Linked DNA regions of Homo sapiens. The protein of the gene in region 4 purifies or fractionates together with the protein of the main gene of each other region. This does not show direct contact. Each region holds a gene or a part of one and is shown on either strand. Other genes may lie near its edges.

Region 1 (3,544 bases), on a different chromosome or scaffold from region 4:
AAACCACAGTGGTAAAGGGAAAGACGAGTGTGATATTCCTCAACCTCACCAGTAAGCAATATTCGTCAAGACTACATCTATCACTAAACACACACTAGAATCAGAAGAATCCTTGACTCCACAGGAGATTTAACTGAGGCCCCACATTAAGGTTCAGGCTCAGGCATTGCTAGTTTACCCTGAAGAAACCTCATCCTATTGCCACTCTCTAATGGAATTTTCCTCCTAGGAAACACTTCCTAATTTGGAATTTATTTTCTCTAGTGCAATAATTAAGGTAGGAGTGCTTGATGGCTTGTGGACTTGACTATGTAGTCAAACTTAAAAAAAATGGTTAACCCTTGTATAAATCTGTGGTTGAATTTTTATTTATGTTATCTGTGAAACCAACAGGGCATCTGGCACACATTTTAGATTTTTCCCATAGATATGAACATATATTGCATATTTAGTTCTTTTTGAATTTTGCTCGAGCTATATGGAAAAGCAAAACAGAGCAAGGAGAATGATGCCAATTGCCATCGTAAGGCCAGTTACATGCTGGAGATGGACTACAGGCCACTCAGGCACAAAGAAGACTCTGCCTCAAGTTTTAGTTCCTTAGTCCTAATATAAGAGAAAAGTTTATGAATGCTAAGGAGAGCTCTCCCCTAGCAGTGGTGTTTCCATTTATTTTTCTCATTGTGATTTCTCACCTTGCTCCTAGATGACCTGAGCACGAAGTTGTGCGTTATAAATCACATTGTTGGTTTTTTAGTGGTGGGAATTGGATCTAAACCACAATGACTATGAAAAAGTGAGCTGGGGTCCTGACTACTTGCTATATTGCACGGTACTATACTTTGTGATTCGACTTCGAGCTGTGCTAGGGGAGGCGGACCCAATGGTTTGGTTAAAGTGATGGTCAGAGGAACTCCTCATGTGGCCAATGCTGGCTGTCCCTCCCAAGCTGCTCAGGCCAATGCCACCACCACTTATGCCAGCTCCACTCAGGGCACCGCTCCCAGCACCCATGCTGGTGCCAACCAGGCCACTGCTGCCTATGCCACCGCTGATCCCAGTGGTGCCACTAATTCCAGTTACGCCAGCACCAGAAACAACCCTCTCTGTCACAATGACATTGTGGGCATTGGCTAACTCGGGGTGCATACTCAGACTACCTATCATGCCGGAAGTTGGTTGGATTACTCTTTCTGTCACTACCACATTTGAAGACTCTCTAGGATGATGGATAGTCAGAGAGGTGGGTAGACTAGAGCTTGGTGCTATTACCCTTTCTGTCACTATAACATTCGACCCATCTCGCAAGTCAGGCATCTCTAACATTCCATGCAAATCAGCGCCAGAGATTGGGCCGACCACTCTCTCTGTCACTACCACGTTTGATGCTGGTCGGTTATCGTGAACGTGCACAGAGGGCTTCAGAGTGTCAGAGGTGGTGTAAGACTCGGTCACAGTGACATTACCATAGCCCAGAGGATCGAGAATAGGCTTAGGATGCAGTACACCAGGTCCCGAGGGATAGGTGCTCTCAGAAATTACTGTGGTAGTGCCGAAATGTGGGGAGATTGGTGGGTGTCCACTAACAACGGGCTCTGTTTCCTGAGGAAGGCAAACTGGTTCAGTGCTTTGTGGTGGCCAAGAAGGATCAAGGTCTGGATATGATTCTTTTCCTAGGCTGATGTCTGCCAACTTCTTAAATTTAGGTCCCAGGGTATCCAAGAAGCTGTCATCCAGGTCTTCTCCAATGAAGCTACAACAACCCACAGAGCCAGCAGGGGAACCTACACCTTCGATGTCATATATGAGCAAACAGTCATTAGATGGGCGTCCTTCATCTTCATCTGCGTAAGCATATGCTTTCTGAATTTATAGGAGAAAGAGAAAATGAAATTATGAATGCATATTTAACAATAATAGAACAGCCTTTATCATTAGTTTTTCTTCCAGAGCATTTCCAAAGAGGAATGAAATAAAACAAGATTTTAACATACTAGAGATGCTCTAAAAATCATTTTATAATTATTTGAAATAATTTGGTTAGAAATCATTTTAAGTATAATTCTAATACTATGATTTTAAAAATTTACTTAGATGGACTTATTTATAATTGTGTACTTTGGACATAAAACCATACACAAAAAAATCACATGAATTGGTTTCGAGGAGGAGCCAAGATGGCCGAATAGGAACAGCTCTGGTCTACAGCTCCCAGCGTGAGCGACGCAGAAGACGGGTGATTTCTGCATTTCCATCTGAGGTACCGGGTTCATCTCACTAGGGAGTGCCAGACAGTGGGTGCAGGTCAGTGGGTGCGTCCACTGTGCGCGAGCCGAAGCAGGGCGAGGCATTGCCTCACTTGGGAAGCGCAAGGGGTCAGGGAGTTCCCTTTCTGAGTCAAAGAAAGGGGTGACGGACGGCACCTGGAAAATCGGGTCACTCCCACCCGAATACTGCGCTTTTCCGACGGGCTTAAAAAACGGCGCACCACGAGATTATATCCTGCACCTGGCTCGGAGGGTCCTACGCCCACGGAGTCTCGCTGATTGCTAGCACAGCAGTCTGAGATCAAACTGCAAAGCGGCAGTGAGGCTGGGGGAGGGGCGCCCGCCATTGCCCAGGCTTGATTAGGTAAACAAAGCAGACAGGAAGCTCGAACTGGGTGGAGCCCACCACAGCTCAAGGAGGCCTGCCTGCCTCTGTAGGCTCCACCTCTGGGGGCAGGGCACAGACAAACAAAAAGACAGCAGTAACCTCTGCAGACTTAAATGTCCCTGTCTGACAGCTTTGAAGAGAGCAGTGGTTCTCCCAGCACGCAGCTGGAGAACTGAGAACGGGCAGACTGCCTCCTCAAGTGGGTCCCTGACCCCTGACCCCCGAGCAGCCTAACTGGGAGGCACCCCCCAGCAGGGGCACACTGACACCTCACACGGCAGGGTACTCCAACAGACCTGCAGCTGAGGGTCCTCTCTGTTAGAAGGAAAACTAACAAACAGAAAGGACATCCACACCAAAAACCCATCTGTACATCACCATCATCAAAGACCAAAAGTAGATAAAACCACAAAGATGGGGAAAAAACAGAACAGAAAAACTGGAAACTCTAAAAAGCAGAGCACCTCTCCTCCTCCAAAGGAACGCAGTTCCTCACCAGCAACGGAACAAAGCTGGATGGAGAATGACTTTGACAAGCTGAGAGAAGAAGGCTTCAGACGATCAAATTACTCTGAGCTATGGGAGGACATTCAAACCAAAGGCAAAGAAGTTGAAAACTTTGAAAAAAATTTAGAAGAATGTATAACAAGAATAACCAATACAGAGAAGTGCTTAAAGGAGCTGATGGAGCTGAAAACCAAGGCTCGAGAACTACGTGAAGAATGCAGAAGCCTCAGGAGCTGATGTGATCAACCGGAAGAAAGGGTATCAGCAATGGAAGATGAAATGAATGAAATGAAGCGAGAAGGGAAGTTTAGAGAAAAAAGAATAAAAAGAAATGAGCAAAGCCTCCAAGAAATATGGGACTATGTGAAAAGACCAAATCTAC
Region 2 (3,996 bases), on a different chromosome or scaffold from region 4:
GATTGGGCAAAAGCATCGAAAGAGTGTGACATGAAAGAGACCTACGTGCATGTACTCACATAAGTAAGCTAGAGCTCTTGGGGAGAAAGCAGGCAACAGAAAAAGTCATCATCTGGGAGCTGAAAACTACAAACAAAGACCAACCCAGTAATTTCAAGTTTTGGCCTGCTTAACAGTATGATGGGAAGTTCTACCCTTGCCGTTTTGACATTAGGGAAACTAACACTCTTCCTCCAAGGGGCAAGTCTTCCTCAGTCCCCTGAACAATTAGAGGTCTAAAGGCACAGTTCCTTTCTGTATCTTTCTGATTTTAATTTCCAACAGAGCTTTTAGATGCAGAAGATTATTACATGTTGTCAGATGAGACAATGTGTTAAAAGACACGTGTGTCTATCTTTAGGATTGGGGCTGTGGCATCAAAGTAAGCAAGTATTTTTTCCCCATTCAAAGGAACAGAAGACTTGCCCTGGGTGCCAGGCAAATCCTTGATGTTAAATTCCTGTCCCTGGCAGCAAGGGACCCGCCCTATCCTCTGCCTGACACATTTTGCTTCTTTACTCCCTTTTTGCTTGACACACCTGCCTCTCCCCAATCAAGTAAACATGATTTCTCCTTCTTTCAACCCCAATAGGGTGCTGCTTGGTTCATGTTTTGCCTTTAGTTTTGTGTCTGTTTTTGTCTTTTCCTCATTGTTAGATTTCAGTCCAGCTTGCTTTACATGTGGGGCACTATATTTTGTAGTGTAGAGCTGACATATAGTAGATACTCAATACTCAGTTTGATAAAACTCCTTGGCTTTTTTACCCTTCTCCCTTTCATATTTTAGAACAAAGCTCATAGACCCCTTAGTTGACACTATATTTGCTATAACACAGCCATTAAATTTTCTAGAATTCTTTTTTATTTGTTTTATTCAAATGGCTTCTCATGATTGGGCTTTCCTCTTGCTTGCTCTATCTGCCCACTTTGGAAATTGCTTTGTCAGCTCCACCGACTTTCTAAGCTGGGCCCAATCCCTAAATGGCCACAAGTATAAGGTCGCCTTTGGAGTTGAATAGTCTGAAGAGACATCAGTGCAAATCAAGGGCATAGGCATTGGAATCAGATTATCTTGTCTGGAATTATGCAGTCAAGGCTGTGTGACGTTGAGCACATTACCAAACCTCTCTGGGCTTTTTTTTAACCCAACTGTAAGGTAAAAATAATACCTACCTTATTGTTTGTTCGCTGCCTTGCAAGCCTTTCAAGGAGGTGAGACAGGGATGAAGCCCTTTCTCAGACTCAACATTTTAGTCATCTGCCCTCTAATCCTTTCCTTTTGCTTATTTGTCAAACTTGTACCTCCTTTAGGTGAGGACAAATACTTATATGTTGGCCATTTTATCCTCTCTACTCTATGACTTAGTGTAAAAAATCTCTCTCTCTTAGTCCTTACAATCATGAGACAATGAACTCCATTCTCATGACCATGTTTTAATGGGAGGAGGGTGGTAGAAGGAGGACACTTGCTTCCCTTTTGTGAGGTTTTTAAATTATATATTTATTATAACCTGTTCAAGAGTGGGTGAGAACAGTGTGGATTTTAAAAGGAACATTTCTGTGTCAGCAAAATGTCCCTGTGTTTGGGAGAGACTTTTGGAGGATTTCCAGGGGAAGCAAAGTAGTATTTACTGACAGTCCAAATGCAGTTTGGGCCTCTAACCTCTGGCCTCTCTCAATTTGTTTTGCAGTAAAAAGTCAGAGTACACAGCAAGGGTTCCAAATTAAGAGGAAGCAAAACGCTGCCCAGATCCTGAGAAACCTGGAGAAAATCAACCTTAGTAGTTTCAACTCATACATTGTCTTGTTTGATTTTGTTCTTTGTTTTTTATCCTCTTTAAGCACAGATGCGTGTTGAAGTCTAAGGTGTTCTGTCATCACACTCTCTTTACTAGAATAAGTGTGCCCAGGCAGAAAAAAAAGTGTATTCAATGTTGCTGGCATGTGTGGATTCACAGCTCGTGGCTGTAAGGAAATCTGGGGGTTTCATAAATCCATTAAAATCCTTTTAGAGTTGCCAACCCGCAGTAGGATTTTCTTTCTTTTTTTGTTCTTTTTTTCCCCTTCCAAGTGAGGCACATAAAGGATTCTACCTAGTCCATGAATGAACAGTTTCATAGAAACATTAAAACCCTAACATAACATGAATTATTCACAAAGTTGCATGAAACAATAATATTTAGGTTATCCAAATTATAAGAAGCCTGAAGGTTACCACCAAACTATTAAATTTTTCTAGGCATTAATTACATAACTAAACAAATGTATTTCTTAAAATTCTCTCTTCCTCTACATACACACAGTAACATCAAAAACAACAAGAGCAACTAAACCTCAATGAGTAGCTACAATGCAGAAAGAGTCCATTTCAATTCAAAGAAAAATATTTTCTCCTAAAAAATATGAGAAAACATTCTGTAGGTTCAAATGAATTTAGCCTTGGCTGAGATCACGAGCCACAAAAGTAAGTGGATATGTGACTATAATTATACAATGTTGGAAAATGGTGAGAGGACTTTAAAATATGCATTTCCTGGCCAGATTGTATCAGAAAACTGAACTAACTAGACAATAACACCTTACAAATTTTGAAGTCCAAAATTTTCAACTAAATTCCAGGAATTCAAAGAAAGACTTTTTTCCTTACCTGTCCCTTTGAGAAAGGAGCTCCAATAATCCCTATGGTTCTGGACTTGGCGCTCATGCTCTGACACTTCTCTTTGCTGCACTTGAGCTCTCCAGTCAGTCAACCCTCAGTGACAGAGGGCGCATCTTTTTTTTCCATTTATACTTGGGTTGAATAAACAACCTTTATCTAATGAGGACAGCTGGCTCCACCCACTAAACCAAAGAATGACAGTCAACAGTCTTGCAATTTTTCATACATGGAGTAACTATATGGTTACTCCATGTATGAAGTAACTATATGGGGTTACTTCATACATGGAGTAACCTAACTCTGAGTCTAGGTCTCTAATCAAGTGACAATTATTCATGTTCTCACTTCACACCCTTTTAAAAAGCCAGCCAGATGACATTAACCTGACTTCAACAACTGACAAGTTTCACAACTACAGAAGAAGTCCTATTGTTCTGGCTCAGCGAACTCAGGGCAAGGCCCTTTCCTCCTCCAGATCTCTGAAGACGTCCTTGTAGAAGAAGGGCCGGGCTTGGCAAGATCGTCTGTCACATCCCTTCCAGCCCTAAAATCCTGAGTTGAGATTTCACACATGAGGGTAAATGGTTAATCCATGAGACACATTTCATAAACTTTTAGGGTATAATATAATAAAGAGTATATAACTTCCTTTTTTGATGATTACTTTAAAAAATTAGTTACTTGATTGGTAACCCAGAGAGGTTACCATTTTTGAAGTATGGTGTACAGGAAAATAATTGTAGAATCATATCATAATCAAAGTATAGAAATAAAAATAGCTAACATTGAGTTTTTACCATGTGTCCGATGCAGTTCTGTTTCAAAATACCATATTTATATTTATACCAATTTTATGTGAAGTCTCATCATTGGTGCCATTATACTGATGAATAAACTGAAGCTCAGACCCGTTGCCAACATAGGCTGTAGAAGAAAAGTCGGGATTTAGTCTCTGCCATTCTGAATCCACTTAACCGTCGAGCTTATAGTCTAAATGCTGGGAAGGTGTCAACCTCTATGCCCCTGAGCTACCATTTGTCACCATACAAAAGTATGAATTTAAAATAAAGGCACCTTAAAGATCCTTCCGACTTTAAAATTATGTAATTGTAATTTAAAGGGAAAATTCACTTAGTAGAAACTAATTTCTTTTTCCTATTGGTGGGAAAGAACATTTTGGAATTTAAATTCCATGAGGTCAGAGAATTTTGTCTGCTGTATCCCCAGGGCCTAGAAGAGTGTTGGTGTATAATAGGCACTCAATAAATATTTATTGAATGGATAAATGAGGAAACCAA
Region 3 (3,201 bases), on a different chromosome or scaffold from region 4:
TGGAGCTGAGGGAAATGGAGAGGGGTTAGGAGGAGGCTCAGCCCCCTCCGCCTGCACCCTTCTTGGCCTGGGCGGTGGTCCCAGCTACCTTTTGTCAACTCACCTCTGTCAGAAGTTCCAAGATATGTCCTTTCCTCTTCGTGAACACATCCACCAGGGTCTGGATAAAGCATGAGCCTTTCTGATCATGTCGGTAGGCGATGTATCCTGGGAATTCCAGAGAGGTGGGTTCGGGGGAGCTTCAGAGGGTAGGTAGAGGGGATCCTGGAAGGGCGTGGGTCCTGGAGGAGAGGTTCAGGAGTTGGGAGTGGCAGGAGAGGGGGAAGAGCAGAGGGATCCCTGGGCCAGCTGGGAGCTCATACCCTCTACCGTGGAATAAACGTGCAAGGCATCTGTGTATGTTGGGATGGTTTGTGGGCTGTCTTTGATGACCATCACAATCTCATCTCCACCTACTGTTTCACCGGGGTCCCTTTGTTCTGAAACAACAAGAAGAGGAGGAGGCAAAGTCAGAGAGAAAGGTAAGGAAAGGGGCTGGGCAGGGTGGCTCACACCTGTATTCCCAGTGTTTTGGGGGGCTGAAGCAGGAGGATCACTTGAACCTGGGAGCTTGAGGCTGCAGTGAGCCATGATTGCACCACTACACTCTAGCCTGGGAGACAGAGCGAGATGTCGCCTCTTAAAAAGAAAGGTAAGGGCTGGGCACGGTGGCTCACACCTGTAATCCCAGCACTTTGGGAGGCTGAGGAAGGCAGATCACCTGAGGTCAGGAGTTTGAGACCAGCCTGACCAACATGGTCAAATCCCATCTCTACTAAAAATACAAAAATTAGCCAGGCATGGTGGCTTGCACCTGTAATCCCAGCTACTTGGGAGGCTGAGGCAGAAGAATTGCTTGAACCTGGGAGGTGGGGGTTGCAGTGAGCCAAGATTGTGCCATCGCACTCCAGCCTGGGTGACAGAGCAAGACTCCGTCTAAAAAAAAAAAAAAAAAAAGGATGCTTTTGTGGTATGCCATGTGCAGTGGGGCTTTTTAATTTAATTTAACTTTTTAGAGACAGGGGCTTGCTTTGTTGCCCAGGCTGGAGTGCAATGGTGTAATCATAGCTCACTGCAGCCTCTTAACTCCTGGGCTCAAGTGATCCTCCTACTTCAGCCTCCTGAGTAGCTAGGACCACAGGCCCATGCCACCATGCCCTTGGCTAATCTTTAATATTTTTCATAGAGCTGGGTTCTTGTTACATTGCTCGACGCTAGTCTTGAACTCCTGGCCTCAAAAAATCTTCCCGCCTGGGCCTCCCAAAGTACTGGAATTACAGGCATGAGCCATGGTGCCTGGCTTCAGCTGGGGCTTTGGATCTGGGACTGGCTTGGATAAAAACACAGACTTGGTTGGGCATGGTGGGAGGCTGAGGCAGGAGGATTGCTTGAGCTCAGGAGTTTGAGACCAGCCTGGGCAACATAATCAGACCCTGTCTACAAAAATTAGCCTGACATAGTGGCGGGAGCCTGTAGTCTCAGCTACTCAGGAGGCTGAGGCAGGAGGACGGCTGGAGCCTGGGAGATGGAGATTGCAGTGAGTTGAGATTCCGCCACTGCATTCCAGCCTGGGTGCTGTCTCAAAAAACAAAACAGAAACAACAAACCACAGACTCTGTGCTCTTGGATCTGTCCCCACCTCCTCGACAGGCCTGTATGATGTACACCTTGGGCTTAGCTCGCAGGGCCTGGCAGTTCTTGTTGTTCAGGGCCTCGAAGAGATTCTCCAGCTTGACCATCTCCCCATCTTCTCCCTTGAGGAAGCCTTCCCTCCCGTGAGCCATGAGTACCACGAAGGCACAACTGACGGGATCTTCCCGGGAATCGATGGCCTGCTGGAATTTTTCCAGCTCTTCCTGGAATTGCTGGAGTGAGAGGAAGAACCAGACTCAGCTGGGTCCCCATAGCCTACACTTCCAACCTAGTACCTTTCCCCCAAACAGGCCTGGAGTAGGCACCCCAATACCTCGGCAGTGGGGTCTCTTTTCATGGTGCTTTCGAATCTCAGCTGCCGAAACATGTGTTCCAGAGCATCCAGGTCTTCTTCGGAACCTTCCCGGGCTTTGGTGACACACAGTATTAGGGCCAGGCGGGCACCTGACATATCATATTTCTCCTGGGGCCAAGAGAAGACAGAAATCAGCATGGAGAGGTTCAAGGAGAAGCAGATGTAGTCAAAAGAGGCATGCAGGCTGGGTGTGGTGGCTCATGCCTGTGATCCCAGCACTTTGGGAGGCCGAGGTGGGAGGATTGCTTGAGCCCAAGAGTTCGAGACCAGCCTGGGCAACATAGTGAGACTCTGTCTCTACAAAAAATGAAAAATATAGCTGGGTGTGCTGCTGTGCATCTGTGGTCCCAGCTACTTTGGAGGCTGAAGTGGGAGGATAGCTTGAGCCTGGGAAGTTGAGGCTGCAGTGAACTATGATCTTGTCACTGCACTCCAGCCTGGGCAATAAGTGAGACCCTGTCTCAAAAATGAACAAACAAAACAAGAGAGGCTTGGGCTTAGGGTTGCCAGGTATAATAGAAGATGCTCAGGTACACTTAAATTTCAAATAAAAACCAAATACCTTTTTAGTATAAGTATATCCCAAATATTGCATGGGATATACTTATACTACATAATTATTTGTTGTTGATGTGAAATTCAAATTGAATTGGGTGTCCTTTATTTTTAGTTCCCAAATACAGCAACCCAACCTGGGGTCCAGCTCTTTTCTAGCTTGGTATGAACTTGGGGGAAGTCACTGCTCCCATCTGAGCCTCAGTTTCCAAATATAGACAATGAGTGTGTGTGTGATTTTGAAGATCCCTTCCAGTTGTCGTATTTTGTGGATTTGCAGGTCTCCTCATCCTCCCCAAGAGTGTTCTGAGCATTCCTCTATTACCTCCTCACTTGCAGAGGTCTCAGAGTTTCTGAAGCTAATACTGAGATCCCGTCTGAGGAAGAAGAATATTGGGGGTCAACAGTTCTTTCCAGAACAGAAGCAGCGTACTGAGCACCCCAGTGGTAAGAACTTCATCTTTTAAAAAATCAACATGAAATTGTTTATTGCAGGACTTCTCAGAACCTTTAATGTGTTGAGAAGAACTTGATCTTTGGAGACAGAGGTAGCTGTGTTTGACTGCCCCCACCACCCAACCCAACTTCGGTTCCATCTC
Region 4 (2,823 bases):
ACTGACCTGGTGAATACCTACCCACTTCAGGGGGCTCCTAGCCTTTTCCCTCAGGCCTTCAACCTATAGTTTCAACAGGGCAAGCCTGTCAGATGAGAAAATGTAATTCATAAAGTCCTGCATGGGTTCAAGCCCTCTGCACAGTGGTGGAGACATGGTCCAGTGATACTGACCATGACCAGTGATACTGGTCCATGAGCAGATACAATTTCACAATCTCTCCAACACCCAGGAAGATGAGGGTCTCATCATGGTCAACCCTGCTCTGAGGCTCATCAAAGGGCAGCACAGAAACAGCCCCAACCCTCAAATCTCCATTTTCAGATGCTTCTAACTTGCGTGGGAAAGTTTATTCACAGCATTCTAGAAGGCATGGGGCTCCCAGGCTGGGATTTCACCAGCTCAGTCTGCTTGTTCATGTTCGTGCAGATCTTTCCTCTAGCTGAGAAACAAGAGTAAGAAGAGAGGGATGCAGAAGAGTGCCTGATAGAAAAGCATAAATATGGACCAAACAAACAGACAGAAATTACCACGAAATGCATTCAGAGCTTTATTCATGCCAAAGTTTGGGGACTGTACTAACTCTGGCAGGCTGCCTTGGTAGAGAAGCAAAGCACAGAGGCAAAGTGATGAGGTTCTACATCACTGGCACTAACAGAGAGGGGGCCAGAAGCTGGTGCATGTTCCAGAAGGGGTAGCGGGGCAGTGCATTCTGGAGTTGAGCTGTCGTATGTTTAGCAGCAGCAGTCATCCTCATGGTCACAGCATGCAGGACCTCGGGACCTCATGGGGATAATTCCCAAACAGCAGCACCCAGAGCTGCCACATCCACAGCTGCAGCCACAGCCCCCAGAACCACAGCATCCAGAGCTTCCCGAATTCTCACAGCAGCCAGATGATCCTGTGTTGCAGTTCTGGGGCCGCTGAATCCAGCGTCTCAGGGGACTCACCCCGAAGGTCCGGGGAGCCAGACAGCAGTAGCTGGTGGAACAGGGAGCAGAGCATGGGTCAGTGACACAGTACTGGGAGGTTGAGCCACTTGCAGGAGCTTGAACATAATAGCTCTGGCAAGGAGAAGCACCCTGGACATAGCACGTCTGGGTCTGGCAGGGAGCTGGACTTTTGATGTAGGTCATCTGGCAGGGAGCTGGGCACTTCACGTAGGTTTGGCAGGGAGTTGGGCATTTTACATAGGTTGTCTGGCAGGGAGCTGGGCACTTCACATAGGTTTGGCAGGGTGTTGGGTATTTCACATAGGTCCTCTGGCAGGGAGCTGGGCACTTCACGTAGGTTTGAGTCTGGCATGGAACTTGGTACTTCACATAAGTTTGAGTAGGGCATGGAGCAGGGCCTGTCACACAGACAGTTTGGGTCTGGCATGGAACTGGGCATTTCACAGAGGCACCATTGCTACCCTGCCCAGCCCCTAGTCCCGAACCTTTCACACAAGATGGAGGGAACTGTGGCTGCTTCTGCTGGTCACACATTGTTCTGTGGCTTTGCAAAATCTGAAAAGAAAGGTTTCATTAGAACTGTAAAACCAGGAAGGTTTCTAGGGGAAACCTTCAACATCCCCTTTGAATACAGTGATTTGCAAGCAAGGCTTTCTTGAGAAGGTTGCAGACATCCAGAGGCTGTATACTTGGCAGGAGGTGGATTCAGAGCCAGGGACTCTCAGCTCAGCTTCTGTGCCTGTACCTGGCTATGTGGCTTGGTACAAGTCATCGCTTACCTCTGGGCCTCAGTCTCTATATTGGGAAATGGAGGCTTGAAATGGTGCTGCCTGTGTTTCTACCCAACTCTCCAAGCCTCCTCTCCTCTTTCTTCAGTGTCTGCATTGTGAATTACCCTTTGGAAATTGCTGCTCCCAGATGATTGACCCCTGCCACCAGTTCTCTCCAGGGTGACTTCCCTTCTTCCTTCTGCCCAGACAAGGAATACCCAGCAAAGACAAATTTATGTCCATGGACCCTGAGCCAACATGAGCCTCAAGCTGTGCCCGGTACTGAGCAAAGAACAAGGCTAAATTTGAGCAGGTTTCTACCAGGTGCTCCTTGAACCAGCTGGACTAATCAGTTGGCCTCATTAGCACATAGACCCAAGAGAGGACTGCACAATTGCATTCAGATAAGGGGATGGGGAGCCAGTTCTCTAAAGTCCCTTCTTAAACAGGAATGCCAGCTCATCGTGTCCCCCTCCCTCTCCTCTCATGCCCCAGGCTCCAAGTTTCCCACCAGCATTGCTTTCAGCCTCCTTCAGCAGATTTCCTAAGCATCTAGTCCTCGCTCACCCTTCATCCCACAGCTCTCATCCCACCCCAGCTTCCCCAAAGCTCTGTTTCTCACCATGTCCTTATCCCGTATAGAGACTTACCCTCTTTGCTGATAGGAGCAAGACTGGAAGAAGTCAGTGATCTGAAAAACTAGCAGGTGGGGAGACCTTTTATAGGGCAGCAATGAGGCAATTTAATGGCATCTAAATGAAGCACCAGAGATCACAAGGAGAAGGGATGGTGTTGCATTGGCAAGATTCCTCCCCAGTATGCCTGGCTCCTCAGTCAGAGGCAGGGCATGTCTGTGCTTGACATTGGGTTTTCCCAAACACTAGATAAATGATTCCTGTTCCCTTCCTCAGGAAACAAGTCAGTCTCCTTTTCCTATAAGTTATGAGTGATGCCTATGTGATCTGTCTCTAATGAAGCTGTTTCCAGGTCACTTGAGTCTTCAGGACTTATCCAAGTTATAGTTAGATTCTCAATTTTTCATACACTGTGCCAAAAGCTAAGTGTAGCTCAGAGAATCAAACTAAAATTGAGAATCTAAT

What was found.
Region 1: the proteins of KPLCE (region 4) and DSG1 purify together in Homo sapiens (affinity purification with mass spectrometry, with the first as the bait; one large-scale study listed by BioGRID). This does not show direct contact.
Region 2: the proteins of KPLCE (region 4) and ARG1 purify together in Homo sapiens (affinity purification with mass spectrometry, with the first as the bait; one large-scale study listed by BioGRID). This does not show direct contact.
Region 3: the proteins of KPLCE (region 4) and CASP14 purify together in Homo sapiens (affinity purification with mass spectrometry, with the first as the bait; one large-scale study listed by BioGRID). This does not show direct contact.

Annotation. Positions count from the first base shown.
Region 1 is NC_000018.10:31,352,616-31,356,159, reverse strand, and holds part of DSG1 (desmoglein-1 preproprotein), read right to left. Parts: intron 2,261-3,544; exon of another isoform or gene 2,224-2,260; intron 1,864-2,223; coding exon 814-1,863; 3' UTR 1-813. UniProt on the Homo sapiens protein: Component of intercellular desmosome junctions. Involved in the interaction of plaque proteins and intermediate filaments mediating cell-cell adhesion.
Region 2 is NC_000006.12:131,572,030-131,576,025, reverse strand, and holds the start of ARG1 (arginase-1), read right to left. Parts: upstream 2,801-3,996; 5' UTR 2,744-2,800; coding exon 2,687-2,743; intron 2,061-2,686; exon of another isoform or gene 1,734-2,060; coding exon of another isoform or gene 1,731-1,733; intron 1-1,730. UniProt on the Homo sapiens protein: Key element of the urea cycle converting L-arginine to urea and L-ornithine, which is further metabolized into metabolites proline and polyamides that drive collagen synthesis and bioenergetic pathways critical for cell proliferation, respectively; the urea cycle takes place primarily in the liver and, to a lesser extent, in the kidneys.
Region 3 is NC_000019.10:15,052,436-15,055,636, reverse strand, and holds part of CASP14 (caspase-14 precursor), read right to left. Parts: intron 2,156-3,201; coding exon 2,006-2,155; intron 1,905-2,005; coding exon 1,679-1,904; intron 480-1,678; coding exon 363-479; intron 282-362; coding exon of another isoform or gene 208-281; coding exon 104-207; intron 1-103. UniProt on the Homo sapiens protein: Non-apoptotic caspase involved in epidermal differentiation. Is the predominant caspase in epidermal stratum corneum. Seems to play a role in keratinocyte differentiation and is required for cornification.
Region 4 is NC_000001.11:152,718,186-152,721,008, reverse strand, and holds KPLCE (protein KPLCE), read right to left. Parts: upstream 1,488-2,823; coding exon 735-1,487; 3' UTR 539-734; downstream 1-538.